Linked DNA regions of Homo sapiens. The protein of the gene in region 7 purifies or fractionates together with the protein of the main gene of each other region. This does not show direct contact. Each region holds a gene or a part of one and is shown on either strand. Other genes may lie near its edges.

What was found.
Region 1: the proteins of KDM5A (region 7) and RBBP7 purify together in Homo sapiens (affinity purification with mass spectrometry; 4 studies listed by BioGRID and IntAct, with this or other methods). This does not show direct contact.
Region 2: the proteins of KDM5A (region 7) and CHCHD2 purify together in Homo sapiens (affinity purification with mass spectrometry; one large-scale study listed by BioGRID and IntAct). This does not show direct contact.
Region 3: the proteins of KDM5A (region 7) and MORF4L1 purify together in Homo sapiens (affinity purification with mass spectrometry; 7 studies listed by BioGRID and IntAct, with this or other methods). This does not show direct contact.
Region 4: the proteins of KDM5A (region 7) and HDAC2 purify together in Homo sapiens (affinity purification with western blotting; 2 studies listed by BioGRID and IntAct, with this or other methods). This does not show direct contact.
Region 5: the proteins of KDM5A (region 7) and EED purify together in Homo sapiens (affinity purification with western blotting, with the first as the bait; one study listed by BioGRID). This does not show direct contact.
Region 6: the proteins of KDM5A (region 7) and LIN28A purify together in Homo sapiens (co-immunoprecipitation; one large-scale study listed by IntAct). This does not show direct contact.

The regions. Positions count from the first base shown.
Region 1 is NC_000023.11:16,849,469-16,853,602, forward strand, and holds part of RBBP7 (histone-binding protein RBBP7), read right to left. Parts: intron 3,408-4,134; coding exon 3,281-3,407; intron 3,161-3,280; coding exon 3,083-3,160; coding exon of another isoform or gene 2,948-3,082; intron 2,655-2,947; coding exon 2,578-2,654; intron 1-2,577. UniProt on the Homo sapiens protein: Core histone-binding subunit that may target chromatin remodeling factors, histone acetyltransferases and histone deacetylases to their histone substrates in a manner that is regulated by nucleosomal DNA.
Region 2 is NC_000007.14:56,103,677-56,107,675, forward strand, and holds the start of CHCHD2 (coiled-coil-helix-coiled-coil-helix domain-containing protein 2 isoform 2 precursor), read right to left. Parts: upstream 2,801-3,999; 5' UTR 2,738-2,800; coding exon 2,688-2,737; intron 800-2,687; coding exon 550-799; intron 1-549. UniProt on the Homo sapiens protein: Transcription factor. Binds to the oxygen responsive element of COX4I2 and activates its transcription under hypoxia conditions (4% oxygen), as well as normoxia conditions (20% oxygen).
Region 3 is NC_000015.10:78,885,929-78,890,062, reverse strand, and holds part of MORF4L1 (mortality factor 4-like protein 1), read right to left. Parts: intron 3,923-4,134; coding exon 3,836-3,922; intron 2,795-3,835; coding exon 2,714-2,794; intron 1-2,713. UniProt on the Homo sapiens protein: Component of the NuA4 histone acetyltransferase (HAT) complex which is involved in transcriptional activation of select genes principally by acetylation of nucleosomal histones H4 and H2A.
Region 4 is NC_000006.12:113,953,817-113,957,950, forward strand, and holds part of HDAC2 (histone deacetylase 2), read right to left. Parts: intron 2,878-4,134; coding exon 2,803-2,877; intron 2,336-2,802; coding exon 2,197-2,335; intron 1-2,196. UniProt on the Homo sapiens protein: Histone deacetylase that catalyzes the deacetylation of lysine residues on the N-terminal part of the core histones (H2A, H2B, H3 and H4).
Region 5 is NC_000011.10:86,247,753-86,251,886, reverse strand, and holds part of EED (polycomb protein EED), read right to left. Parts: intron 2,439-4,134; exon of another isoform or gene 2,327-2,438; intron 1,592-2,326; coding exon 1,439-1,591; intron 1-1,438. UniProt on the Homo sapiens protein: Polycomb group (PcG) protein. Component of the PRC2/EED-EZH2 complex, which methylates 'Lys-9' and 'Lys-27' of histone H3, leading to transcriptional repression of the affected target gene.
Region 6 is NC_000001.11:26,420,389-26,424,522, reverse strand, and holds part of LIN28A (protein lin-28 homolog A), read right to left. Parts: intron 1-4,134. UniProt on the Homo sapiens protein: RNA-binding protein that inhibits processing of pre-let-7 miRNAs and regulates translation of mRNAs that control developmental timing, pluripotency and metabolism.
Region 7 is NC_000012.12:379,150-383,283, forward strand, and holds part of KDM5A (lysine-specific demethylase 5A), read right to left. Parts: intron 1-4,134. UniProt on the Homo sapiens protein: Histone demethylase that specifically demethylates 'Lys-4' of histone H3, thereby playing a central role in histone code. Does not demethylate histone H3 'Lys-9', H3 'Lys-27', H3 'Lys-36', H3 'Lys-79' or H4 'Lys-20'.

The DNA.
Region 1 (4,134 bases), on a different chromosome or scaffold from region 7:
GCCTCGCTATGTTTCCCAGGCTGCAGTCAGTAGCTATTCATTCACAGGCACGATCACTGTGCACTACAGCCTTGAACTCCTGGGCTCAAAAGCGATCCTCTCGCCTCAGCCTCACCACATCTGGCTACTGTTTATATTTGGTGTAAGGACGGGATGTTTACTTTCTGGAAATAAGTTAGAGTTGTTCATAATTGAAGTTGCAGAATGAGGAATTATTGTCAATAATAAACATTAACTCAAAATCCCTTCATTAACTGTTTATTGCCTTAGAATTAAAAGGTGAAATGTATAGTTAAAAAAATCTACACATAAACTGATGTGCAATCCCTATACTTCACTCAAAGCCTGTTGCATCCCAGGAGTAAAATATAATTACAAATCAGTACTATAGATCTGTCTAAAGATATGGCAATAAAACTTTGAGAAATGTGTAAGCCAAGGAAATGTTTTTATGGTTTTTCTCTTAAAAACTTCAATTTGTAGAATTTGCCAGTGCTCAACAGTGAAATCACTCTTTATGTATCAATATCAGCCCTGTCCTTATACCTAGCCCAAAGACTTTAGTAGTAACAACTACTAAAAAACAAAACCCAGCCCTCCAAGTGAGACATTTTTTTCCTTCCCACAAAACTAACCAAACAATCTCAAACCTGTGGGATTGCTAGACAATACTTATCTTCCACCTGTCAGTATAGTTGCTAAAACTCACCATTTTAATCCCAAATTTTATCTAATGTAATTTTACAATTTTTTGTAGAGACAGGGTCTATGTTGCCCAGGTTGGTCTCGAACTCCTGGGTTCAAGCGATCCTCCTGCTTCAGCCTCACAAAGTACTGGGATTATAGACATGAGCCGCCATGCCTGGCCCCCTATCTAATGTAATTTTAATATTAAACAAGCTAAGAAATAATTCTAAGAAGAAATTACACACAATGCTCACAAATTATTGGCACCTTCAGGGGCAATTCAGTTGCCAGGGCATCAGACTTCCAAACCTTGCTGTACGCTTCATACAACCTCTTTATAGTTTTGATTTAGGTTTTATTTTACTACTAAAATTGTTTTTAAATCAAATACAATGCCCCCAACTGTCTGCTTTAAAGGTTTTCTACATCTTCAAGTATTTATCACGGCAAGAGTTTGCTCCATCAGAACCCTGAACATTAGCTATTTTAAGTTTTACATACAAGCATTTTATTCTCCAGCGTCTCTTCTATATACTGAGGATTACTGCCTCTATAATTAAGGCAGCCTTGGTTTTAATATATAGGTTGAGCATCCCAAATCCAAAATGTTCCAAAATCCAAAACTTTAAGCACCACGTGACACTCAGAATTTGGACTTTCACACCGAGTGCAATGGCTCATGCCTGTAATCCCAGCACTTTGGGAGGCCAAGGCGGGAGAATCACGTGGGGTCAGGAGTCTGAGACCAGCCTGGCCAATATGGCAAAGCTCTGCCTTTATTTATTTATTTTTTTAGTAAAAAATACAAAACCGGGCATGGTGGCTGTGGCAGTGCTTGTAGACCTGTAGACCCACCTCCTCGGGAAGCTGAGGCATGAGAACTGCTTGAACCTGGGAGGCAGAGGTTACAGTGAGCCAAGATTGCGCCACTGCACTCCAGCCTGCGTGACAGAGCAAGATTCAGTCTCCAAAAAAAAAAAAAGAAAAGAAAAGAAAAGAAAAAGAAGAAGAATTTGGACTTTCAGTTCAGATTTGAGATGCTCAACCAATAAAGTATAATGCAAATATTCCAAAATCCTAAAAATTCCAAAACCCCAAACACTTCTTATTCCAAGTATTTTGGATAAGGGATATTCAACCTGTACTAAATTCAGTCCACTTCAAAGCAATATATTTAATACAAGCAGGAAATAAGTTATTTTTTGGTAATTTTATGATTTAAACTTAAGATGACATCTTACGGAGGAGTATGTAACTGAGCAACTTTATTAAGTTCTAAAGGCTCAGATGAACAAGTAAAGGAGTCTAAAATTCTTAGAACAGCAAGTCTGAACTAAAGGAACTTTAAAAATTGGCAGAAACTCTTTATACAATGAGGCCCCAGAGAACATAAGCTCTCTGACAGCTTGGGCTGTCCTTGTCCCCTTCACAAAGGTCTCCCCAGCAGTTACACAACCCACAGCAGGAGTGCACATCTGCAGAATGAATCACTGAAAGCAAAGTAAATGGTACAAAAACCCAGAAAAAACAGTCCTGCCTACACGTACTGAGATCCAATGAGACATAAAACAGCTAACATCTTGATTTCTCTATATCAAGTGTGTTTTAAATACAGTCATTTGAATGCAAAAACAAAAACAGACACATACACCTTCATGCCTGAATATTAAGAGACAAAACTCACACTAGAGAAATTTATTTTATGGTCCATTTGCTGCTTCACTTCTATTTTACAGAACAAAGGCTCTTTAGGAAGATGCTTAGAAGTTTCTTTAATATTAGGTTTCTTGAAGGGGGGATTACCAAATTGCTTTTCTAGTTTATGAATGACTATGTAACTTGCCAGATAGGCACATTTATGCAGTATCTTGTCACAGGACTGTAAGTTACCTTAAATCCCACACATTCAGGCGGCGGTCAGTACCACTTGAAGCCAGAATAGTTTCATTATGTGGAGACCAGTGGACCTAGTAATAGATAATTTTGAAAATGTATTTAAAGAATCATCCGCTGCTAGGTTTGTGGCTGTTGTTCTAATCTGATATTTTCCCATCTTGCACTCTATTATCTTATCCTTGGCCTGATGGCCTCACTCTCTTGTCCCCGACTTTCAAGTGCTCTGCAAGGGCTCAGCTCCATCCTGTCCTCAGGAAGGCTGCACTCCCCAGCACTGAGGAACTCAGCCTGGGATCTCAATAAATTTATTCGACCCCATAACCATCCCAGAAGCTTTTTAATTCTTCAACAAGGTGTACCTTACCCTATGAGCATCTCCATGTAACACCACGTACAAGACATTTTTTTCAATAGTGGACCCACGAGTCTGGTATAGCTTAACTGATGAATCCCTGGATTTCATTTCCTGACATACAGACACCAGAAAACTGTCACATACCTGGAAAATTTCATCTTTATGAGATTCGAAGGTATGGAGTTTTAATTTTAAGTTACGCAGATCCCATAAAGCTACGGTCTAAAGAAAAATAACAAGTGAAAATGATTTCTATGCTTTACCTAAGAATTTTCAAATATCTGATTAAGGCACAAGAGAACTGGGTTTTATAAACACCAAATAATGCAAAAACTTCGAAACCTTATCCGCAGAGCCGGTGGCTAGAATAAATTCGCTGTAGGGATTGAATGAGAGGCAGTTGACTTCGGCAGTGTGCGCATCCACCAAGTGACTCGGCTTGGAGGTGGTATTGGACCTGGTGTCCCATCTAAAACACAAAGGTAAAGGCACACGGCACCCAGGGATGACACACTCACATTCGGCCTCACATCACTGTCACTGCACTCCACAACTAGCTCCACTATGTGCTCCCCTTCATGAAGAAACCAACCACACAGCTGGTGATTCAGACCTCGACCACTAAATGATACATTCGAAACCTACAGAGAACAAGCTAGGGCTGTTAGTCCTGTTTTTTAAATTAGATTCCTATTTTAATTACCAACTATTTCAAGTGTACACAAAATACAGACTATGTAGAGAATAATGTCACAATCTGATACCTAAAACTAGTTTTGACAAATGCCCAGTATTTTGTCACATTTGCCTCAGGTATTTCTTTATAAGATTATAAGTGAATGAAGCCCTGTGGCCACACCTTGATGAAATCATTTTCCTCCTCGACCTCCAACTGGCATCACTCTGGATCTCAATTTTGATATTTACCACCACACCAAGTATGTTCCTTCACATGTCCATACCTAGTTTTCTTTTTTTCTAAATAATAAGTGATCCTCCCACTTCAGCCTCCTGAGTAGCTAGGACTACAGGTGCACACCACCATACCCAACTAATTTTTTGTTTTTAAATTTTGTGTAGAGTCTCACACTCCTGGTCTCAAGCAATCCTCCTGCCTCAGCTTCCCAAGGTATTGAGATTACAGGAGTAAGCTACCTAAAGCTGTTTTTTAAAGCCATAACTTAAAAAAAAAAAAT
Region 2 (3,999 bases), on a different chromosome or scaffold from region 7:
CAAATAAAGTGGAATTATTATCTTGTTATCAAGACTAAATGGTTTACTGAAGCTTCAGGGAGGAAAAATGGTACTATTATAGAAAACTGGATGGAGCAGTTTCAAGCACACCGGAAATACAAGAGTATACACACCTATGCTCATTAGACTAGAAAGCCCACACACATCAGAAAGATGGGTAATGGCAAACATCACGTAAAAGAACACACAGCTATGCGAGATTTTTGATTTGTTAACTAAGATCAAGACAAGATTAGTAGGAAGTGTCACTGGGATGAAATATTCAAAGGGAAAAGTGGTTGTTTTACAGTGAGTCAAGTGGACTGTTGTAAGTCTCCTCCTTGGGAAGAAACACAATTTGTACAGTACTTGTTGGTGCTGGCCTAAGGCAGTAACTCAACGGCCAAATGTGGCTTTAAAACCCATTGTCTATTAACAGCACAGTGGGTTCTAAAATCAAAGACAATTCCTACACTTAAGGAACTTACAAACGTCTGGCTTTTCTCATAAAATCCACCCATGGAAGGGAAATGCTGCCTAAATTCCCACCTGGTAAGTGATGTCAGGCCTCGCAGGCTCAGCATTACTTCCTCCACTGAAGCCCCCAGTAATGGCGTGACCCAATGTGTGCCCCACAGCAGAGCCCACAGCCACGCCAGCTGCAGTGGTTGCCATCTGGGCCATCAGACCTGGCTGCCGGGGCGCAGCAGCAGAAGAGCCAACTGCAGATGGGGGTGCCGCTGCTGGTGGCTGAGCGACTGGTGCTGGCCTGGGTGCAGCTCTCATCTGAGGGGCCCGGCTGTGAAAGAAAAGAAAAAAACATCAAGTTCCCAATTCCAACCAGTTTTGGAAATTGTCAACTTAAAATAACTTACATATTAAAATGGACCTCAAGATTTTCATTTCAAATTATTTACATCATTTTCTCTCTTCAATTTTTTTTTTTTTGAGATGGAGCTTCGCTCTTGTTGCCCAGGCTGGAGTGCAATGGTGCAATCTCAGCTCACTGCAACCTCCACCTCCCAGACTCAAGCGATTCTCTTGCCTCAGCCTTCCGAGTAGCTGGGATTACAGGCACCCGCGACCACCTCCGGCTAATTTTTTGTATTTTTAGTTGAGACGAGGTTTCACTATGGTGACCATGGCTGGTCTCCAGCTCCTGACCTCAGGTGATCCACCCGCCTCGGACTCCCAAAGTGCTGGGATTACAGGTGTGAACCACCACGCACGGCCTAATTTTTTTTTTTTTTTTGAGACAGGGCCTCACTCTGATGCCCAGACTGGAGTGCAGTGTCACGATCCAATCTCACTGCAACCTCTGCCTCCTGGGTTCAACCGATTCTTCTGCCTCCGCTTCCCAAGTAGCTGGGATTACAGGCGCGCACCACCACACCTAGCTAATTTTTGTATTTCTAGTAGAGACGGAGTTTCACCATGTTGGCCAGGCTCGTCTCGAACTCCTGACCTCAAGTGATCCACCCGCCTCGACCTCCCAAAGTGTTGGGATTACAGGCATGAGCCACCACGCCCGGCCACTTTAATCTTTTCTTATAATAGTAATAGCCTAGGACATACTAGTTTTTTCTGCTTCTTTGCAACAATTTCCATGTATTCGGATAGCCCACAGTATCTTTAAAGACATATCCAACATGTCATAAGAAATACAGACTACTAAAAGTTAGAAAGATTCTTACAGGATTCATTCATTCAAGTATTAGGTAACTACAAGGCGCTGGTAATGTAACTGTGAACAAGAGACAAAAATCTCTGCATTCATGGAGTTTACATTTTATTGACGGATCAAATAATTAACATAGGCTGCGGAGTGGTGGCTCTTGCCTGTAATCCCAGTGATTAGGGAAGTGGAGGCGAAAGGATCATTTGAGGCCAGGACTTTGAGACCAGCCAGGGCCACATAATGAGACCCTGTCTCTGCTAAAATATAAAATAGAATAAAGTCGCCAAGTGTGGTGCACAGGTGGCGCATGCCTGTAGTCCCAGTTACTCTGGAGGCTGACGTGGTAGAATAGCTTGAGCCCAGGAAGTCAAGGCTGCAGTTAGCCATAATTACGTCACTGCACTACAGCCTGAGTTAGACTCTGACTCAAAATATAAATAAATAAACATTCTAATTAGGACTTAAAGATGGTCAACTGGGGAAATAATCTAGTCCAATTCCTTCATTTTACACATTACAAAACAAGACTGGCCAAAGTGACTCGTCTGAACTATTATACCAAAAGCAACTTCAACTATTCCTCATCTGTTCAACGTTCAGATGCTTTCAACAATTTCGAGACCCCTTCTCAAATAACAAAAGACTAATTATGTCCTGCACGTATTTAAAAATCTTCATATGTATCACGCTCCCTCTGACCATTTCCGGATTATTTCCTTGGGTGCTCTTTTCCCCGAAATCAAGCTAGGTCAAAATTTATGCCTTCCTACCACCTGGCCATAACGTTATGCCTTTCCCGTTGTTTGGATAGGAAGCTTTTTCCGTAAGTGAATTCCCTCCCCACACTCCCCTAACATAGGCTTTACGTTCAATCTACCCCCGCCTGGCAGAGGCGAGCCCACGCCGCAGCCGACCTTAGTTCACCCCCGCCCGCGGCCTCCCTCTGCGTCATTGCCCCAGTAGAGTCCGGACGGCCGCGCTTTGGTCTCAAACCCTGCGATGGTCTCACCTGGCCGGAGGGGCCATGCGGGAGGTGCGGCTTCGGCTTCCACGCGGCATCCTAGGTAAGCGACGGCTAGGCCTCCGGACGTGGGACAACCACCGAAGAGCTAAGCGACTTCTGAGGAGACCGGAAGATGGGAGGCGGGGCTGGCCTCAACGCGCAACCAACCAGCACACAGGCAGAGAACTTCCGTTCTCCGTCGTCTCCGCAGGCCTGAAGTTCATTGGAAGAGCAGGACGTCACGGGGACGCCTCGTCCTTCGCGGTCAACGCCCTGAACTTGGCGCCAGGATCTTTAAAACCCGGAAGTTCCTGTGGTTCATCCGCGAACCTTGTCCTCCGGTCCTCGCATCAGAGCACTTAGCATTTTGCTTCCCTAGGGCAGCTGGCCTGTCGCTCCGTCCTTCAAACATTTGTATTAAATCCAACCTTAAGAGTGACTCACATCTCTGGCTGGATTGCCAGGGGACCTTGGGCAGATTTCTTAGCCTTTCTGAGCATTCAGTTATAAGGGCAAATATTTTTGGAGGCACAGTGTGGACGCGTAGTATGAACTGAATGAAAGAAATCGGTTTCGTCAAAAATAAACAGAGTTGAATTAGTTGTATTTGGTATTTCTCTTTCTTGTCTGTGGATCCAGTCAGCAAAAGTTAAATTCAGGCAGCAATAATGTTTTACATTTATGTATTACTATATATTTTCAGCTCCTTTTCATATGTATTATAGAATTTGTGTCCAGAATTGGGACAGTAACCATACACTGGTAAATTCAACAAAAATTTACTGTCTAACTGGGTTATGGAGATACTGCACCAAATCAGATAAGATTCTACCTTCACGAAGTTAAGTTTCAAGGAGGGGAGACACAAACGCCTACGTAAATCAGGTGGTGGTGACATGAAAAGAGAGGAAGGAGACTGGAAATTAGAGGTTAGGCGGGGCGGGGGGGAGTCATTTGAACGGAGCCCTTGAAGAGGTGGGGAAGCAAGCCATGTGTTTATGAAGATAAGAACACTACAGGAAGAGAGAACAGCAATTGCAAAGGCCCCAAGGATCTGTGCTTTAGTGATACTTGGTGTGAAATGCTTTTTTTTTTTTTTTGAGACGGAGTCTGGCTCTGTCGCCCAGGCTGGAGTGCAGTGGCGCGTTCTCAGCTCACTGCAGCCTCCGCCTCCCGGATTCAAGCGATTCTCCTGCCTCAGCCTTCCGAGTAGTTGGGATTACAGGCGCACGTCAACCCGCCTGGCTAATTTTTTATTTTAGTAGAAACAGGGTTTCGCCATGTTGGTCAGGCTGGTCTTGAGCTCTTGACCTCAGGT
Region 3 (4,134 bases), on a different chromosome or scaffold from region 7:
TTTTAAGAGACGGGATTTCACCATGTTGGCCAGGCTGGTCTCAAACTCCTGACCTCAAGTGATTCGCATACCTCGGCCTTCCAAAATGCTATTACAGGCGTGTGCCACCATGCCTGGCCTAATTTTGCTTTTTTACATTATTATTTCTAGACCACAAAGGAAACAGTTTATAGAGCCCATGATTATGGATTACTTTCGATGGAAAGATACTATAACACCTGGATTTTTTACTTTTCTGTAGCTTTAAATAATACTTATAAATGTTATTAATTAAATATATTCATTTAATTTAGGTCTTAAGGTTTGACAATTCAAATTAACTTATGTTTGGATATAAACACAAAAATCTGTGTATAGGTTTTCTCTTGTCTGTTAGTTTTGTAAAAATCTGTTGGACTGTATTTCTCGGTCAAAGTCAACCATGAACTTTACTTGCACGTGTCAATATGTGGAGACCAAGAGAAACCAATAGTCTTCACACTCAATCCTTTACCCACTCACCTCTGTAATATAAAACTAAAATACTGACAGGTGATCTCAACTCTAAAGTAAAAGATCTATAAAATATAGATGAGTTCAGCATCCCAAAGCCAAAATGCTCCAAAAATCCCAATTTTCTGAGCCAACATGACATTCAAAGGAAATGCTCATTGAAGCATTTTGGATTTGGGATGTTCAACAGGTAAGTATAACGCAAACATTTCAAAATCCAAAAAAAGTCTGGAATCTGAAACGCTTCTGGTCCGAAACACTTCAGATAAGGGATATTCAACCCATACACTTCAATAAGTCCTAGTAGTAAGAGCTTGACATTCATGCTTCAAACGTCTAGACTGAGGATCCTTCAAAAGACTCAGAAGCCAGTTTGAAGAGGCTTCTACTGTTCAAGAATGGGAAATTTAAATTTTAAAGCTTTACTTCATATATTTACTCAGCCATTATTTTTGTAGTGGAGACTGCACAATGCTGTATTCAAATGCAAATAACTTATGGGCATACTACCACTTAAGATTTCTATATAATAACTTAGCACAGTGATAAAGAATTAGTTATGAACTATTACTTTTGATAAAAATCTTTTCTATATAGAGAAAATTACTGCCTTTTAAGACATAATTACTATTAAATCCTAATGAAATACTACACTACAGTTTTCCAAAGAACCAGATCATGAAAACATGTTACCACTTATTAAAACTATGAACAATCCTCAAATAGTAACACACTTAATCCTTGCCAATTATCTTCTCACCAAAAAGAGTTTAAAAAAAAATAAAAAGCTTCAAACATCTCCAAATGCATTAAATACTAAATACCTTCATTAGTAACACCTTACTTTTTTTAAGAGGCTGGAGCGCAGTGGTGCAATCACAGATCACTGCAGCCTAGAACTCCTGGCCTCAAGCAATCCCTCCCACCTCAGCCTCCCAAAGCACTGGGTGTAACACCTTACTTTTAAGTAGAAAAATCAGATCAGTAATTCTGGTAGGAAATAAAATGACCTCTTAATAAAAGTTATAATTTTTGTTTTTATTATTACAAATACTTAAGAATACTTATTAAGTTACCACTCTTGTCATCCACTTTCAGGTACATCAACTTTTTTTTTTTTCTTTTTAAAAGACAGGATCTCACTCAGTCGCCAAGACTAAAGTGCAGCCTTGACCTCCTGGGCTCAAGTGACCCTCCCACATCGGCCTCCTGAATAGGTGGGACTACAAGCATGTGCCACCACCCCCGAGCTAATTTTTTTATTTTTCTGTAGAACCAGAGGCTCCCGATGTTGCCCAAGTTGGTCTCAAACTCCTGGGCTCAAACCATTCTCCTGCCTCAGCCTCCCAAACAAAGTAGGGGGATTACAGGTGTGAGCCACCGCACCGTCCTACATAAACTTTAAACATACAAAATGTATGCATGCACATGACTTTCTCACTCTAGGCTTCTTATCAGATGTTCTAAAATCTAGAGTTAACAAGAAGTAATGGTTTTGTGCCAGGAGCAGTGGCTCACGCCTATAATCCCAGCACTCTGGGAGGCCAAGGCAGGTGGATCACCTGAGGTCAGGAGGTCAGCCTGACCAACATGGTGAAACTCCATCTCTACTAAAAATACAAAAATCAGCCAGGCGTGGTGGCACACGCCTGTAATCCCCGCTACTTGGGAGGCTGAGGCAGGAGAATCACTTGAACCCAGGAGGCAGAGGTTGCAGTGAGCACAGATCACACCACTGCACTCCAGCCTGGGCAACAAGAGGGAAACTCTGTCTCAAAAAAAAGCAATGGTTTTCTTAGGGGTGGGGATGAGGAGGGCAGTTATTTGAAACCTTAACTTCTCACATATTCTTACCATGAGTTTCACCAAAGTGGAGGTTAATTCGTATGTATTTTTAGCACTTGCCAGCACTTGCTTTTTAGGTTTGAAAAGGCTTGCCAAAAGTTATCTCAAAACTTATAACCACTAGTACTATCTTTGTAAGAGAAAACATCACACACATATATTTATACACACAAGTTAAAGGGAGGGGGAACCTGCTGAGGAAAATTAAGGAATACGTTATTTTAAACTACTTTAACGACCTGATACCTGAGGAATGGGATTCTTACTGGTTCCAACAATGTTCCAAAGTTTCCACTTCAACACAGTCTAACACACAATGAACATAAAATATTATCTTCACATATAGTATGCAAAATCAAAACAAAGAGCTTCTTACACTTCAACATTTTTCTGTTGCAGACCAGATGTCTTCTTTCCTGGGGCAGCCCCTCTCATCTTCCCCTCTGCATACTGCTCCCTTCAAAAATAATTTCAGTAATGTCAACATAAAATGAGCATTTATGTGAAAAAAAAATTGTCAGCCTGATTCCATTAGGAATTTACATTCAAATTCTGGCAACAAGTTTTTAACAAGTTGGACAGAGATATTTCCACAAAAATCAAACAAAACACTCAAGAAACAGCAAAAGGCTCAATTAAAATCAATGTAATAAAAAGTGACTGTAATAGACTGTTCTCATAGCATTGAAAATTCCATTTGTTTTGGAATTCACTAATCCCAGTGTTTTATTTGTTCCCATTACCATTTTAATTCTTTTTTTTTTTTTTTTTGAGACAGAGTTTCACTGTGCTGCCCAGGCTACACTGCAGTGGCGCGATCTCCGCTCACTGAAAGCTCTGCCTCCCGGGTTCACGCCATTCTCCTGCCTCAGCCTCCGGAGTAGCTGGGACTACAGGCGCCCGCCACCATGCCCGGCTAATTTTTTGAATTTTTAGTAGAGACGGGGTTTCACCGTGTTAGCCAGGATGGTCTTGATCTCCTGACCTCGTGATCCACCCGCCTTGGCCTCCCAAAATGCTGGGATTACAGGCGTGAGCCACTGCGCCCAGCCATCGTTTTAATTTTTTTAAAAATACATTTCAACTTTGAGATTACCCTATAAATCATAGAGTCTTTCAGGGTCCCTTTTCCCGTGCTTTCAGAGATGAAAAGCAGAATAGGAAATGCCTCGTTTGCTTGTTTCCCCACCAAATTTGTCTTCCAGAGCCCCCGAAAATAAAGATTTTTATCAGTGAGTTCATACCTATAGCAATTTCCAACAACATTCTGCTGTTTTCTACCTAGGTCTAAGATAAGCTCAAGTAATGGCAGGTATGCTACTTCCTTTACCTAGATATGGCTTGATCGCTTGAAGTCAAAGCTGTAACACAGCAGCTGAAAGGTACCAGGAATCATTTTATAGGCAGGGCAGCCAACATGATCTCCATTGTTCATTCCATGTCCAGAATTAATCTACAGGCATTTCTCCTTAATATTCAGTTCACAAAACAAACTTACTGATTGGCTTTTTGAAGTTCTCGCTGTTTCTGCAAATTGGTGTCCACGTATTTGAGTACTCTGCTCTCCGGAACCCATTCATCCCAACTGAAAAAGAGGAAAGTTAAAATTTAACTCAAAAATACTCTGTTCTCCAACTAATTTTCTGAGATCAAGAGGCAAGACTGGATTTCTCTTAAGTAATTTGATGAACTGGCACTACAAATATATTCTCAACTAAAATGAAGATCTAATGGAAGTCTGTTCTGTAAAAAGGAAAACTTTTTATTTTCAAAAAGCAGCATTCCAAATCTAAGCTG
Region 4 (4,134 bases), on a different chromosome or scaffold from region 7:
TGCCTCTTTTTTCAGCTTTGAACTAAGAAGTTTTTATTATTTTTTAAATGGTTTAAAAACAAAACCAAAACAAGAGTATTTTCTGACGTGTGATAATTATACAAAATTCAAATTTCAGTGTCCATAAAAAAAGTTTTACTGAAAGACAGCCATGCTCAATTGTTTATTACCTATGGCTTCATTTGAACTGCAGAATCGATTAGCTGTGACAGAGGCTACATGTGGTACTCTCATGACTTCAAACTGGTGCTTGGAGCACCACAGATTAGTGACACAGTTGTAACTCAAACGCAGTTTAGGAGTCACATGAATCACCATGTCATGACATTTTGTTACCAGTGTATACTCATGTCAAAATAAGGGGAAAATGGACTTCTCATGTCATCCTTTTGAAGTATAGTGAAGTGAGATATTATTAGATGGCAAAGCATTGTATTTATTATATAATGGTGCCATAACTGTGCTAAATAAAACAATACAATGTAAATTGATATTTCCAGACTAAGCACTCATAAGAATATTCTCATAACACTATAAACAGCATACCATAGTACAGCAAAATTTCTTCACAAAATTAAAAAAACAGAAATGAGGCTGTGATCAAAATAAAGTTTCTGAGCGGCTCACGTGTTAGATAAGCAAGGAAAGCTGTGCACCAAGTCAATTAATTAAATCATGTTTGATTACACCACCCAAAAAAATGTGTCCAGACAAATTAAAGTTGTTTAAAACTATTAGCTGAGTGGGCAAGAACTTGCTCAAAGAGTTGAAGACACTGGAACCAACATCAACAGTCAATTAAAAAACAAGGCAAATGATTGCAAATGATTTTCCTTTGCTCCTGATGAGCAGGCAAGATGTTACACTGATACTGCTCAATCACTGTTTATTTGAGGAGTCAGTATCAATTTTAAGTTGACTGAAAAGTCAGCCTCTATGGATAGCATGCATGGAATAACTACAAGCAAAAAACACTAGCTCAGTATAATACAAAGTAGAATCTGCTAAGATGTGTCATAACTGATGGCAAAAAATAACTAACATTGCGAACATCCAAATTCCTAAGTACCTCTATAGATCTCTCTCTCAAACTGCAGCCACAGATAAGGAAAAATAACTCCTTCAACAACTCAGAGATAATTTTATATCCATCAGTAGAGAACAAAGCCTCATTCAGATATGGAAGTTAGGCAGTTAGACTAACTCAATAGGTAAAAAAATTTCCTTTAACACTGGCTTCAAATTTTTGTCTTCAGTTTAAAACATCCAAAATACTAGAATATAAACTTCCAAGGTCATTGTCATTTTTTACTAGTTGAAACTAACTAAAATGAAAATTGCCAAACTACTTTTAAAAAAGGGTATTTAATGGGAGTTTTGACATTTATATACACTTCTAATTCTTTTTTTTTTTTGAGATGGAGTCTCACTCTGTAGCCCAGGCTGGACTGCAGTGGTGCCATCTCGGCTCACTGCAACCTCCACCTCCCAGGTTCAAGCAATTCTCCCACCTCAGCCTCCTGAGTAGCTGGGATTACAGGCGCACGCCACCACGCCCGGCTAATTTTTCTATTTTTAGTAGGATGGGGTTTCACCATGTTGGTCAGGCTGGTCTCAAACCCCTGACCTCATAATCCACCCACCTCGTCCTCCCAAAGTGCTGGGATTACAGGCATGAGCCACGGCACTGGCCTTTTATACACTTCTAATTCTTTTTTTAAGGCAGGGTCTCACACTGTTGCCCAGGCTAGAGTGTAGTGGCAGGAACATGGCTTCCTGCAGACTCAACTTCCTGGGCTCAGGTACTCCCACCTCAGCCTCCTGGGTAGTTGGGACTACAGATGCATGCCACCACATCTGGCTAATTTTTTTTCTGTAGAGATGGGGTTTTGCCATGTTGCCTAGCCTGGTCTCAAACTCCTGGGCTCAAGAGATCCGCCCACCTCAGCCTCCCAAAGTGGAGGGATTACAGGCCTGGGCCATAGTGCCTGGCCACACTTCTAAGTCTTAATAATTGAAGAATTGGGCAAATTTCCTGCATTTCTTCATTGTTTTGTAATGAATTCATAGAAAATTCACCATTAACTATTTCAACCTATGGTTTACCTAATATTTTTTAAAGCCATAGACTTTATTTATTGTGTTTTAATGAAAACACTTTATCACTGAAAAGAGTATCAATATAAATTAACATACTTTAGTAATTCAAGGATGGCAAGCACAATATCATTAACGTAACAGAATCCTGATGCTTCTGATTTCTTAGCATGATGTAATCCTCCAGCCCAATTAACAGCCATATCAGTCTGTTGTCGGTTTAACTTCACAGCTCCAGCTAAGAAGTAGAAACAAGATAGACCTTTTAAACATTTATCATAAAAAAGTAGTAGAATGAGACAAAAACACTACAAGTGTATGCCATGCATAAGCAAGAGCTTAAAATCATGAAAGTTAACAGAAATCATCTATAACACAAATAGGAGTTACTCCTTAGAAAAATATTCTCCTAGAGCTGCAACCTGAGATTAAATAATGGTTTATGTGGAAAGTGGTAGTAACAATGATACCTAGAAGACAAAGGGAATGAATGAAGTCTCCAAGTGAAAATAAGTTTAAAAAGCGTTTAAGTCATAATCATAAAACATAGAGGTTTGAAAGTAAATTGTACTTTACTATAAACATACTGATTTCCTTTTGTTATCAAAATTCACAATCATTAAAACTTCTGTTTTACACAAATAACCCGAAAGATAACACACCAAGTTCAGATCAACTTTTAAATCTGATTGCATTAGCACTTACCAACTGAACCGCCAGTTGAGAGCTGACAAAACTCAAAGAGTCCATCAAACACTGGACAATCTTCTCCAACATTAACTGTGGAAGATGGATTTCATTAATTTCAACACATTCTGCAAATTAATGAAAGCCTTTTCTTACAAAAACTATTTCCCACAAATACTTTTTTGCTTGATGCAATCATCAAACATACACTTCACAGTATAATATAAAGTTTCCAACTTTAAAATATATTTATTGTTTTATCCAAGGTAATTAAAGTGTTATCTGTGAAAGATCATCAAATCTTATCAGGATTATCTGTGGAATATTTCTGTCTATTAACAAGAACTCAATAGTTGTCTAAGTACAACAATTCTTATTTAATTAAAACACAGGCTTAAATTTTCTAGGCCTTTCCCCTTAATATTACAATAAGTTAACATTCTAAAAGCAACTTCAATTGCTTTATAATTTACTTTCTTTGAAACTCCTTAAATACCTATAATATCTGTAACTTTGAAATGCATGTCAGTAAGTTACTAAACCAAAAAGATGTAACAGCTGGTTGCCTATTCCCATGGCTAATCTTGATCTTGAAAGTTGCTAAGAATTAACTAGGTTCATGGGAGCCAAAACATAGGATACTAAAGACAACAAGGAAAACATTTACAGATAAACGATCACACATTTAGTTCCTTAGCACTGAGAGAATGAAAGGATATGGCAGATGTATGTAACCCTTTCTTAGTCTTTCCCTATGCCCTTGAATTGTAACCTCTTCAAGAATAAGGGTCCTTGTTTTGTATATTAATATCTTTGTATACCCTTAAGTCACAAGCACTATAAGAAATGAATTTTAGTTTCTTACTGCACAGAGAGATCATAATCTTTTTTTTTTTTTGGAGACAGAGTCTCACTCTGTCGCCCAGGCTGGAGTGCAATGGCGTGAGCTTGGCTCACTGCAACCTCCACCTCTGGGGCTCAAGCAAGCAATTCTCCTGTCTCAGCCTACAGAGTAGTGGGATTACAGGCGCGCACCACCACACCCAGCTAATTTTCTGTACTTTTTTAATAGAGACAGGGTTTTGCCATGTTGGCCAGGCTGGTTTCGAACTCCTGACCTCAGGTAATCCACTCACCTCCGCCTCCCAAAGTGCTGGGATTACAGGCGTGAGCCACCACACCTGGCCAGGATCATAAGCTTAATAGAACTCATTATTATGTGGGTTTTAAATCAATCCTGTTATGTTGTTTGCCCAAGGGCTACTCATGCCTCTTTTGCATCTAAGTTGGAATCTTCATTGAAAAAAAAAAAATTAAATACTACATGTTCTAGTTACATTGTAGCATTAT
Region 5 (4,134 bases), on a different chromosome or scaffold from region 7:
TTATAATATTTGCCTTTTTCTTAATAAGCCAATCATATTCTGAATCACAATAAACTGGATAATTTTGGTGGATACAAAAGGACACAATTTATTTTTCTGAAACAGGAAATTAACAGATGGCCTTAATAGCTTCTCTGGCATTCACTAAATTTTATAAGGCTAAATTTTTCCCTTGTAAAGTGAAGCATAGCAGACTCCATTCAAATCACTGTTTTCTGTTAGTCAGAATGAGAATATCTGAACACTGGGGACTAGGGGAAGAAATAAACTGTAACTGCACAGTTACCAGGAGGCTATAGGAGATGTACAAAGAACAATTATGCACTTTTGTTCACAAAGTTATTTTTCAGCTTTAGGATTTTACTGGCCAACTTCTGGCATTTAACACTGACTTTCAGATGCAGTTTAAGGCACTGTTTTCACTTTTAAAGTACGTCTTTCGTTTTCTCATCATTTGAAAAGCCACAGCTTTAGGATTTTGAAATACTGCCTTAAGTATAAAAGGCAGCTAAAAACATCTTCCAGGTACAGTACCTAAAAGTAGTACGTTAATGTAAATAAATATGCACATGAAACTATAATTGACTTTTAAAAAATATGCTGAGATTAATTTCTCTCCTTTTACAGGAGCAAAATCTGACACACTGAGCATCGAATTTTTGCTACACAGACAGAAAAATGTCATAGTCATAGCTTCTTATGCTTTCCCAAAACTTTACTTATAAAAAATATATTTGGATATTTAGAAAAGGTTTTAACTTACATATGTATGAGATAATACACATTTTTCCTCAGTATAGAAAAAAATAGCCTCACATTTAAAAAACAAACTGGACATATATAAAAGAAAATATCTTAAACACCAGTAACCCCTTTTATAAAGTAAATAAAAATACTATTGGGGACAGATTAATTTAAATAACCAAAACCCCCTTTTCCCTAAATATTTAATATTAAAAAGTTTAAAAATTTTTTACACCTTTTTCTTTGAAAACAGTTATAAATAAAACAAAGGACAGAAACTGTACAAAGTAAAACATCTGTTTCAATTTATACTTAGTCAAAGTTAATGGGTTACATTCAGTTCTTTTTAAAAACTGATGCCAGAAGTGGCTTATGTTTTTTAAGTTTTACTAAAATATAAAGAGTAATAGTTACCCAAATCTTATAATTTGAATGCAAACAATAAAGCAAAAACATCCTGCAACACTGTCACATATTTAAATTAAAACAACAAAAAACAAAACCAAAAAACTAAACATGGGATGGACTAAAATAGATACGCAGTCTGAACTACAAAAAAAAAAACCCTTCAGAAAACATTGTAACTTTAAAATATTTACAACTTGACAGAGTATCCTGAGTACGAAATGCGTGCCACAGAGAAATAATTTCTGAAGCCTAGCATTCAGCCCAAAGGATCTTTTTTTGCACATACCTTGAGACTATTTACACATTTGAAAGAATATTTGCATTTCTTTGACTTCCATTTTCCCTTTCCCCAACTTTTCCTTCCAGGTGCATTTGGCGTGTTTGTAGGTGTATCAGGGCGTTCAGTGTTTGTACCACTTTCTATACTGACAGCGTCATCCTGTAAGCAGTAAATGAGGAAAAATTACATGAAACAGCAATACTGTTTTTAGCAGTAAATAACTCTACTGGGAAGATGCTGACTGACCTAAGAGAAATAATTTCTACAAGAAGAAAAAAATGTATTCTTGCCTCCACATAAGGATAAACATAATCCAGCTACAGGTTAGAAGGTTTGTAGATATTTTATATTTCAACAAAAATGAAAATGAAATAAATACTAATGAGAATAATGGAAGAGTAATACTGTCTTTAATAAGGCACTGGTCTGTTCCAGTCACTTTAATACACTGTATCAGTGAATCTTTACAGCTCTTTACAAAAGGTACTGGAAGTGCTGAAAAAGCCTAACTGGTCTCTTGGCTGGTAATTCCATCCCAAAGCTGTGACTCTTAAATCTGACTGATGTATATGTCTTCATAATGTATTTGACTGCTGCTCAGTCTGGAGCATGGAGCTGGGGAGCCGTTTGAAGCAGGAGTGTTAATGGCTTCTACATTAGATGTCACTTTTTAAAATCCTGTTATTCAAATTCTGCTTATAACGCAAAACATTTAGAATTTTTTTAAAGTGCTACATATATTCTATGCTATTTACAAGTTAAAACTGTCTCATTGTTCTAAAGTAATAATACTCATAAATCAGAACTCCAGAGACTCTCAATCACAATTAAAGTAAATCCTTCCAAAAAAAAGAAATGACTGCAGGAAACCTTGAAAATTCTCCTAATTCATACCTTATCTCACACACGAGTGGCCCTCTAATCTCAGCTCTCTAATCTCAGAAGAGGATTCCACTACCTCCTGATTACAGATTCCAATGTCTCCTTTGGAAAGAAAAGATTTATTTAATCTAGGATCTTAGGGCAGCAGTTCTAAAATACATTCCAGAGGAAGCCTTTTTTTTTTTTTTTTTCCATGAAATGCCTATTAAACAGCCTAGGAAACACTGCTTTAGGGGCTATTTTTAAATTATTGCTTCCTAAAGTTGGTTTTATATAGAAGGTTAAAAAATATCATAAATGAAATAATAGGCGGGTAGCAAGCAGTACGTACTCAACAAATATTTGAATTGTAATTTAATGTGAATATCATTAGTCTTTACAGAAATAGAAAATGTGGTATTTTAATCTCTTTTTCTCTCCACCTTTTCAGTTGTATTCACATAATTAACATCAAACGTAGAAAACAATTCTGTATCTCAGTGGAAAACTATGCATTATCTATATAGCACATCCTTCCAAGTTACCAGACTATAGCCCTCCACTATGTCTTTGAGCTATCTTACAACTCTTTTTTGAGACAGGCTCTCCCTCTGTCACCCACTCTGTCCTTGGTTCAACGCAACCTCCACCTCCCAGACTCAAGTGATCTTCCCCCCACCTTAGCCTCCTGAGTAGCTGGGACAACAGGAGCTGGCCACCACACCCAGCTAATTTTTGGTAGAGACAGAGTTTCACGATGTCGCCCAGGCTGGTCTCAAACTCCTGGACTCAAAGGATCCTCCCACCTCAGCCACCTAAAGTGCTGGGATTACAGGTGTGAGCCACTGCGCCCAGCCACAACTCTTTTTTCATTATGAATAACTGATAGACATGTAAATTTTGTCTCTACAGTAGAGGTTCAAAATGTCTTCCCTTCCACTCAAGGGAAAAAAAAGTTTCTGTCTCCATTTGGAATTCATCTCTCCATTCCTTTACTCCATATATTAATAAATTTGTACTGTTTTGATTTTGCGGGTTAACCATTACTGTATAACATTTGCCTGGTTCCCTCTGAGTAAAAGTTTCAACATGTGTTCACTTGCCATTTTTTCTGTAAAATTACCTTTTAACACTAGAGAACTGAAATTTTAAAAACTCTAAGACGTTTTTATATATCAGTTTCTTTACATTCTGGCTAAACACTGAGCTGCCAATACAGAGGCCACACAAAACATTCGTTAATAGGGCACGTTGCTTATTTTACTTCTGATCACTTAATTTACCCATCTCCTCCCAAGGCAAATCAAGATGGAATCAAATGAAAATGTAATACAGCCACCATGCTTCCATTTTATCTTTAAACTAAAATCAAGTCTTTGCTGAGTGTCTAATATATGTACAGGGTGACCTCCATCCTATTCCATTCTCAAAGTAAAGAATGATACTGTGCAACAGACATGGTACTACCATCTTCACTTGCCCAACGAGGAAAGAGACACAGGGCAGTAATTTGCACCTGCATCTTGCCACAGGGATTCCCTGCATCTTTGCTTTTGCTTAAGCAAAAAGACAAGTCTCCAGATTCAGCCCTCTGATCTTACTACCAAGGCATCCATTAGTACTCTCGCAGAAGCCAACTACTCTGCAGTCATATGATCTCAAAAAGTTCAATAAAATGGCAGGTAACACAATAAATGTAAAATATGTGCCTGTAATTCTCTGACTCACATTAACAGTAGTAACTGCTCAGGTTACCTGAACTCTAACACAAAAACATATTCCCCCACACCCCATCTGCTTTGGCCTTTTGCCATTATTTGGCTCCCTCAAGAGTAAAACTA
Region 6 (4,134 bases), on a different chromosome or scaffold from region 7:
TACGCCTTTAACCCCAGCACTTTGGGAGGCTGAAGCAGGTGGATCACGAGGTCCAGAGTTCGAGACCAGCCTGGCCAACATGGTGAAACCCTGTCTCTACTAAAAATACAAAAATTAGCCGGGTGTGGTGGTGGGCGCCTGTAATCCCAGCTACTTGGGCAGTTGGGGCAGGAGAGTTGCTTGAACCCCGGAGGCAGAGGTTTCAGTGAGCCATCATGCCACTGTACTCTAGCCTGGTTGACAGAGCAAGACTCCATCTCAAAGAAATAAATAAATAAAATAAAAATAAAATGTCACGCTATGAAGCACTGAAATATTCATTTTTCACATAATGCCTCACTTAGTATTTATACCATCATCAAAAGACCAAATAAGTAGAATACTGGAAAAAATACAAAATCAAGTGGTATTTTTATAATCAAAGCAATATGATATGCCTTATTTAAAAAAGAAAAAAAAAAAGGCCGGGTGCGCTGCCTCACGCCTGTAATCCCAGCACTTTGGGAGGCAAAGGCAGGGGATCACGAGGTCAGGAGATCGAGACCATCCTGGCTAACACGGTGAAACCCCGTCTCTACTAAAAATACAAAAAATTAGCCAGGCGTGGTGGCGGGTGCCTGTAGTCCCAGCTACTCCGGAGGCTGAGGCAGGAGAATGGCATGAACCTGGGAGGCAGAGCTTGCAGTGAGCTGAGATCGCGCCACTGTACTCCAGCCTGGGTGACAGAGCAAGACTCCGTCGCAAAACAAACAAACCAACAAACAAAAAAACAAACTCAAGATGCTCAATGATTTAAGAAATAATACTAATGGGCCGTGCGCAATGGCTCATGCCTGTAATCCCAGCACTTTGGGAAGCCGAGGCGGGCATATCACCTGAGGTCAGGAGTTTGAGACCAGCCTGACCAACATGGAGAAACCCTGTCTCTACTACTAAAAATACAAAATTAGCCAGGCGTGGTGGTGGGCATCTATAATCCCAGCTACTTGGGAGGCTGAGGTAGGAGAATCACTTGAACCCGGGAGGCGGAGGTTGCGGTGAGCCAAGATTGCGCCATTCTACTCTAGCCTGGGCAACAACAACAACAAAAAAAAAAAAAAAAAAAAAAAGAAAAAGAAAAAAAAGGAAATCATAATAATGGCTGCAAAACATGTTAAAAAACCAAACAAACAGAATAGGCCAGGCACAGTGGCTCATGCCTGTCTGTAATCCCAGCACTTTGGGGAGGCTGAGGTGGGCAGATCACATGAATCCAGGAGTTCAACACCAGCCTGGCCTACGTGACGAAATGCCATTTCTACAAAAAACACAAAAATTAGCTGGGTATGGTGCGCAGACCTGTAATCTCAGCTACTCGAGAGGCTGAGGCAATTGTTTGAACCCGGGAGGCAGAGGTTGCAGAGATGGCACCACTGTACTCCAGCCTGGGTGATGGAGCGAGACTCTGTCTGGCTCACCCCTGTAATCCCAGCAGAGGTGGGAGCATCACTTGAGCCCATGAGGCGGAGGTTGTAGTGAGCCAAGATTATGCCACTGCATTCCAGCCTGGGCGACAGAGTAAGACCCTCTCTCAGAAACAAACAAAAACACCAAAACCCTCAGAATACATTTAACAAGGTAAAAAGCCTATATGAAGAAAAAACTCAAATATATTAAAGGAAAAAATGCAAAAACATACCACGATCTTGGATTGGAAGATTGAGTGATTCTAAAGGCTATGGGAAAATATAAATTGCCAAGAATACCAGATATTACAATTTAAATTGGATATAATCAGCAGTGTAGCAACTACAAAGGGAAAAACAGCAAGTTTACAGTGGAGAAAACTGGCAGATAATACCCTAGTCAAGTTCTTTGAGTTTAGCTTTGCCTACAATGGGACACACATATCTTCTAATATGATGCACTAAGGACTTATGACTTTAAAAATGCACATCCTGAATCTAACCTTGAGGGAACATCAGACAAACCCAAACTGAGGGACATTCCTATAAAACAGGACTTCAAAAATGTCAAGGTCATAAAAAGACAAAGCCTGAAGAACTGAACAGTTCAATGAAATCCAAGATTCCAGATTGGATCTTGAAACAGGAAAAAAAAAAAAAAAATAGGACAATTGACAAAATTTGCATATGGTATATAGATAAATGTACCAGTGTTTAATTTCCTGATTATGATTAGTGTACTGAAACGATGTAAGATTGATATTCCCAGCCAGGCACAGTGGCTGATGCCTATAATCCCCAGCACTTTGGGAGGCCAAGATGGGCGGATTGCTTGAGCCCAGGAATTCGAGACCAGCTTGGGCAATATGGCAAAAACCCATCTCTACAAAATAATACAAAAATGAGCCAGGCACAGTGGTACACACCTGTAGTCCCAACTACTGGGGAGGCTGAGGTGGGAGGATCCCTTGAGCCCAGGAGGCAGAGGTTGCAGTGAGCAGAGATCACACAACTGTGCTCCAGGCTGGGTGACAGAGTGAGACCCTGTCTCAGAAAAAAAAAAAAAAGATAAATATTCCCATTCTTGGGAAATACGCACTGAAATATTTAGAGATAAAAGTGCTTACTGTCTCCAACTTATGGTTTCAAAAAAAAAACTATCTGTAGCAAGATAGAGAATGATAAAGCAAATGGGGCAAAATGTTAAGAGTCAATGAATCTGGGTAGAGGTTATGTGGGAGTGTTGGGTATTGTTCTTGCAGCCTTTTTAAAGTTTGAAATTATATCAAAATAATGTTACCGAAAGACAGTATAACCCAAGCAGATGGATCAGAGGATTAAAATGGAAAATCACAGAGATCTGAGAATATATGGAGAAATCAATAGGTAAGAAAAATAATTCAATAAATGCTGCTATAAAAATTAATAATCCATTGGGAAAGGAAGTCATATTCCTACAGACTTTGTATGATACATATGCAAAATACATTTCAGAGGATTTAAACACCTCATTGTTAAGAAAAATACTGAAAAGTTAAGACAGATAATCAGACTGGTAAAACTACAAAAATATACCATAAATCACTAAGAAAAAAGAATTACACAACATAATATAAGTAGATTATCAGTAGGAAGTCTTAGCACGACACATATACTCAGTATCTCATTGTTGCTTTAAAAAAATTGGAAATAACCTACTGGTGTATTTGAAGGGGAATGGTTGAATAAATATGGTACATCTATAATAATGAATACCACGCAGCCATTAAGAACAACGTAAAGTCTTTGGTTTGTTCACAGCCACATTTTGGTACCTGAAATAATGCCTAGCACATTTTTGAATGAATTAATGAAACAGGAGGCAGATTTTTAATCATTCAGCTGAGAAAGATCACCAAATAATATTGTTAAAAGAAAAAACAAAAAGCAAGATTTAGAACAATATGTATGGAATAATCCTATTAGAACACTGCACGTTTGTACCAAAATTTAAGGACACTGATATTTATAAAGCAGTTAGCAAACAGCCAGCAGCCATCAAGAAAAAAAAAAAAAGTAGTTGTTGATACAGCTAGTTCTGTAGCAAAGCCAGGGTCAGATGAACCCAGAGTTCCTGATTTAAAGCTCAGAGCTCATTCTATCATGCCACTTACTGCACCACCAACTTGACATTAGCGGAGGTGACAGCATCTCAGACCCTACCCAGAATAGACTTCATTACAGCTTCATCTATTATAGTAAAACAACAGTGTCAAATATGTCAACAAGGAGTAGTCGTCATAGAAAATGGAGAAGCAAAAGGGATCACTGTGCACTTACCTAGTCCTGGCTCAAGGGAACATGAGTAAGTAGCATTCGTATTTTATGCTGGTGGCTGGGGGGTAATATTCCAAACTGGAACTTAAATGAAACATGCTCTTCATCAAGATGAAGGAACCACAGATTCCTTATCACTTAATTTTTTTTTTTTTTTTTTGAGAAAGTCTTGCTCTGTCGCCCATGCTGAAGTGCAGTGACACGATCTCAGCTCACTGCAACCTCCGCCTCCTGGGTTTAAGCGATTCTTCTGGGTTTAAGCTAGGACTACAGGCGCACGCCACCACACCCAGCTAATTTTTGTATTTCTAGTAGAGACAGGGTTTCACCTTATTGGCCAGGCTGGTCTCAAACTCCTGACCTCATGCCTCCT
Region 7 (4,134 bases):
ATCATAGTATTTTCAAATCATATATAAAAAAAAAACTTAATAGATGCCAACAAACTGTCAGCCAAAAATAATCTTTTTTTTAAAAAAGGGCACACCTAACCTTAAAACATCTCAACTCTCAGTATTTTCTGCAGTTTTCAGCCCAAGCCTCTTGCTAGAATAAAATGTCATGTTAATGAAATAAATAGTCACCCAATGATAAAGGTCAGAATAAATTACCTTTGTGAAGAAGTATTGACTGGAAAGGAGATGAAACAACCCACTAGAGTGCTATAAAAATGTTATATATCTTGATCTGCGTGATGGCTACAAAACAGGTGTACACATATGAAAATTTATTGAACTGTACGCTTGAAATTTGTGCATTACACTGTAAGTTACACCTCAATGTAAAAGAAAAAAGTTAACGTGAGAAGCAGCAATCTCACAATGACATTTAGGGAACAAAGTATTATAAACTAAAATAACTACAAATCAAAGTTTGTCTGCCTTTTAGCTTTAAATCTCAGTTTTGCAAACATTCTCACAGGTTGGGGAAAGAGATGTCCATGAGGACTTAAAAAAACCCACAAAGACAAGATTCCAATAAACCGTCAGATAAGCACACTTAACCTTTAATCATAACATATTTTCAATAAGTTTTCTGAATATTTAAACAAAGTGTACTTTATTAGTAGTATGAACCTTAAAAGGAAATCAGCTTCTCAAGATGGAGTTAAACACTCTGGATGACCGTTATAAGGAGAATTGTGAACAACTAAGTATTCAGACTAGGTTACCTCTAAAAGCCCCTTCCCTATTTTGAAATCCTATGACTTTAGAAAACCAGAAAAGTGCAGCCGGGCACGGTGGCTTGCACCTGTAATCCCACCATTTTGGGAGGCCAAGATGGGAGATCACTTGAGATCAGGAGTTCGTGACTAGCTTGGCCAACATGACGAAACCCCGTCTCTACTAAAAATACAAACATTAGCCAGGCGTGGTGGTGTGCGCCTGTAGTCCCAGCTGCTTCTGAGGCTGAGTGAGGGGAATCGCTTGAACCCAGGAGGTGGGAGGTTGCAGTGAGCCGAGATCACGCCTCTAGCCTGGGTGATGGGGGAGACTCCGTCTCCAAAAAAAAAAAAAAAATGCAATTTAACTTACCATCAGATTAAACCTAAGGTTTACCTTTTAAATGGAAAATCACTGACAGAGAAAGTTTCAATAGATTACTACTCATACTATTAATACTTACTCTAGCAAATTCCTTAGGGTATTTATGAAAATAAAATAGAGATAAAGATTGGCCGGGCACAGTGGCTCACACCTGTAATCCCTACACTTTGGGAGGCCAAGGTGGGCAGATCATTTCAGGTCAGGAGTTCAAGGCCAGCCTGGCCAACATGGTAAAAACCCCATCTTTACTAAAAATATAAAAATTAGCTGGGTGTGGTGGCACACACCTTTAATCCCAGTCCCAGCTACTCAGAAGGCTGAGGCATGAGAATCGGTTGAACCTGGGAGATGGAGGTAGCAGTGAGCCAAGATTGTGCCACTGCACTCCAGTCTGGGCAAAAGAGTGAGACTCTGTCTAAAAAAAAAAAGTAGAAAGAGCTTCATTAAAGAGTACTACAACATATTGCTATTAATGATAAAATAATTTTTGAAAAAAAAATTTTTTTTTCAGACACAGTTTCACTCTTGTTGCCCAGGCTGGAGTGCAGTGGTACTATCTCAACTCACTGCAACCTCTGCCTCCCGGTTTCAAGTGATTTCCTACCTCAGCCTCCTGAGCAGATGGAATTACAGGTGCCCACCACCACACCTGGCTAATTTTTTGCATAATTAGTAGAGATAGGTTTTATTTTATTTTTTTTTTTTAGACGGAGTTGTGCCGCTCTTATTGCCCAGGCTGAAGTGCAATGGCGTGATCTCAGCTCACCACAACCTCCACCTCCCGGGTTCAAGCAATTCTCCTGCCTCGGCCTCCCAAGTAGCTGAGATTACAGGCATGTGCCACCACGTCCGGCTAATTTTGTATTTTTAGTAGAGACGAGGTTTCTCCATGTTGGTTGGGTTGGTCTCGAACTCCCGACCTCAAGTGATCCTCCTGCCTCAGCCTCCCAAAGTGCTGGGATTACAGGCATGAGCCACCGTGCCCGGCTGAGACAGGTTTTCATCATGTTGGCCAGGCTGGTCTCAAAAACTCCTGACCTCAGGTGATCCATCCGCCTCAGCCTTCCAAAGTGCTGGGATTACAGGCATGAGCCACAGTGCCGAGCCAATTTTTGAAATTTTTTTTGTATTTTATTCATACTACAGTCAAACACATTCAGAATCTTAAACAGCATCATACAGCAAAACTTAGTAGGTAAGTTTTGATTGAATAAAAATTTCAAAAAAGCATTCTTAAGATGAATTTTTATCCTAATAGTTCCCTATAAGAAGAAACCCACCACCCAAATTTAGCATAATTTGTTCTTTAGTACCATAGGTTTTCATATAACTATACTAGACAATTCTTGACACAGTGCTTACTTACTAACATCATTACCTGACTGATTAAAAAAAGTCTCAAGCTGTATTTTAGCGTAAGACCGTACTTCCCAAATTTTTTAGTAAGAGAATTTTGACCTGACACTAATTTTAAAATGTATCATAAAAGATAATTTAAATATGGTTACTCTGTTTTTTTGGAAACAGGGTCTTGCTCTGTCACTCAAGCTGGAATGCAGTGGTGTGATGACAGCTCACCGCAGTCTTGACCTCCTGGGCTCAAGCAATCCTCCTGCCTCAGCCTCTTGATTAGCTGGGACTCCAGGAGTCCACCACCATGCCAGGATTATTTATTTTTTAATTTTTTGTAGAGATGGAGTCTCACTATGTTGCCTAGCCTGGTCTCGAACTCCTAGGTTCAAGCAATCCTTCCACCTCAGCCTCCCAAAGTGCTGGGATTATAGGTATGAGCCACCACATGCCACGAATTATTCTCATGTTTTTCCTTACAAGTGAAATCTTCCTGGCCACGCATGGTGGCTCACGCCTGTAATCCCAACACTCTGGGAGGCTGAGGCGGGTGGATCATCTGAGGTCAGGAGTTCGAGTCCAGCCTAACCAACATGGAGAAACCCTGTCTCTACTAACAATACAAAATTAGCCAGGTGTGGTGGCAGGCACCTGTAATCCCAGGTATTTGGGAGGCCAAGGCAGGAGAATCACTTGAACCCGGGAGGCTGAGGCAGAAGAATCACTTGAACCCGGGAGGTGGAGGCTGCAGTGAGCCGAGATGGCACCACTGCACTCCAGCCTGGGCAACAAGGGCGTGACTCCATTTCAAAAAAAAAAAAAAGTGAAATCTTCTAAAAGTAACTGCAATTTAAATAAGAATAAATTTTTATTTCAAAATAGTATATAAATTATAAGATATGAAAGGCCACAAGAAGAAGTTGTTTTACAAAATTCCCAGATAATTAAGCAATAATAAATTTGTATTATTGTAGTAACAAAACATATTTTAGCCGGGCGCGGTGGCTCACGCCTGTAATCTATAATCCCAGCACTTTGGGAGATCAAGGTGAGCGGATCACGAGGTCAGAAGTTCGAGACCAGCCTGACTAAGATAGTGAAACCCCATCTCTACTAAAAAATACAAAATTAGCCTGGTGTGTTGGCACATGCCTGTAATCCCAGCTACTCGGGAGGCTGAGGAAGGAGAATTGCTTGACCCTGGGAGGCAGAGGTTGCAGTGAGCCAAGATCAGGCCATTGCACTCCAGCCTGGACACAAGAGCAAAACTCCATCTCAAAAAAAAGAGAAAAAAACATATCTCAAGGTTATTATAATCTCAGCTTGCAGGTCAGTTAGTTTTTTTTTTTCACATTAGGGAATATAATGTTAAAAAATTAACACAATTTCAGCAAAAACTTGTCTAAACTCTTCACCCTTAAGTTTCTGAGCTGTTTGGTCATCCTACTGAATAATGATGGCCTCAGTCAGCCATTAACACTACATACACGTATTAACAAAACTAATATATACCACACATAAGAATGCTGAGAAACATGAGTTTCTTTAATATGCCAAATTTTCTCTTTTTTTTTTTTGAGACAGGGTCTAACTCCTGTGGCCAAGGCTGAGGTGCAGTGGCGCAATCAC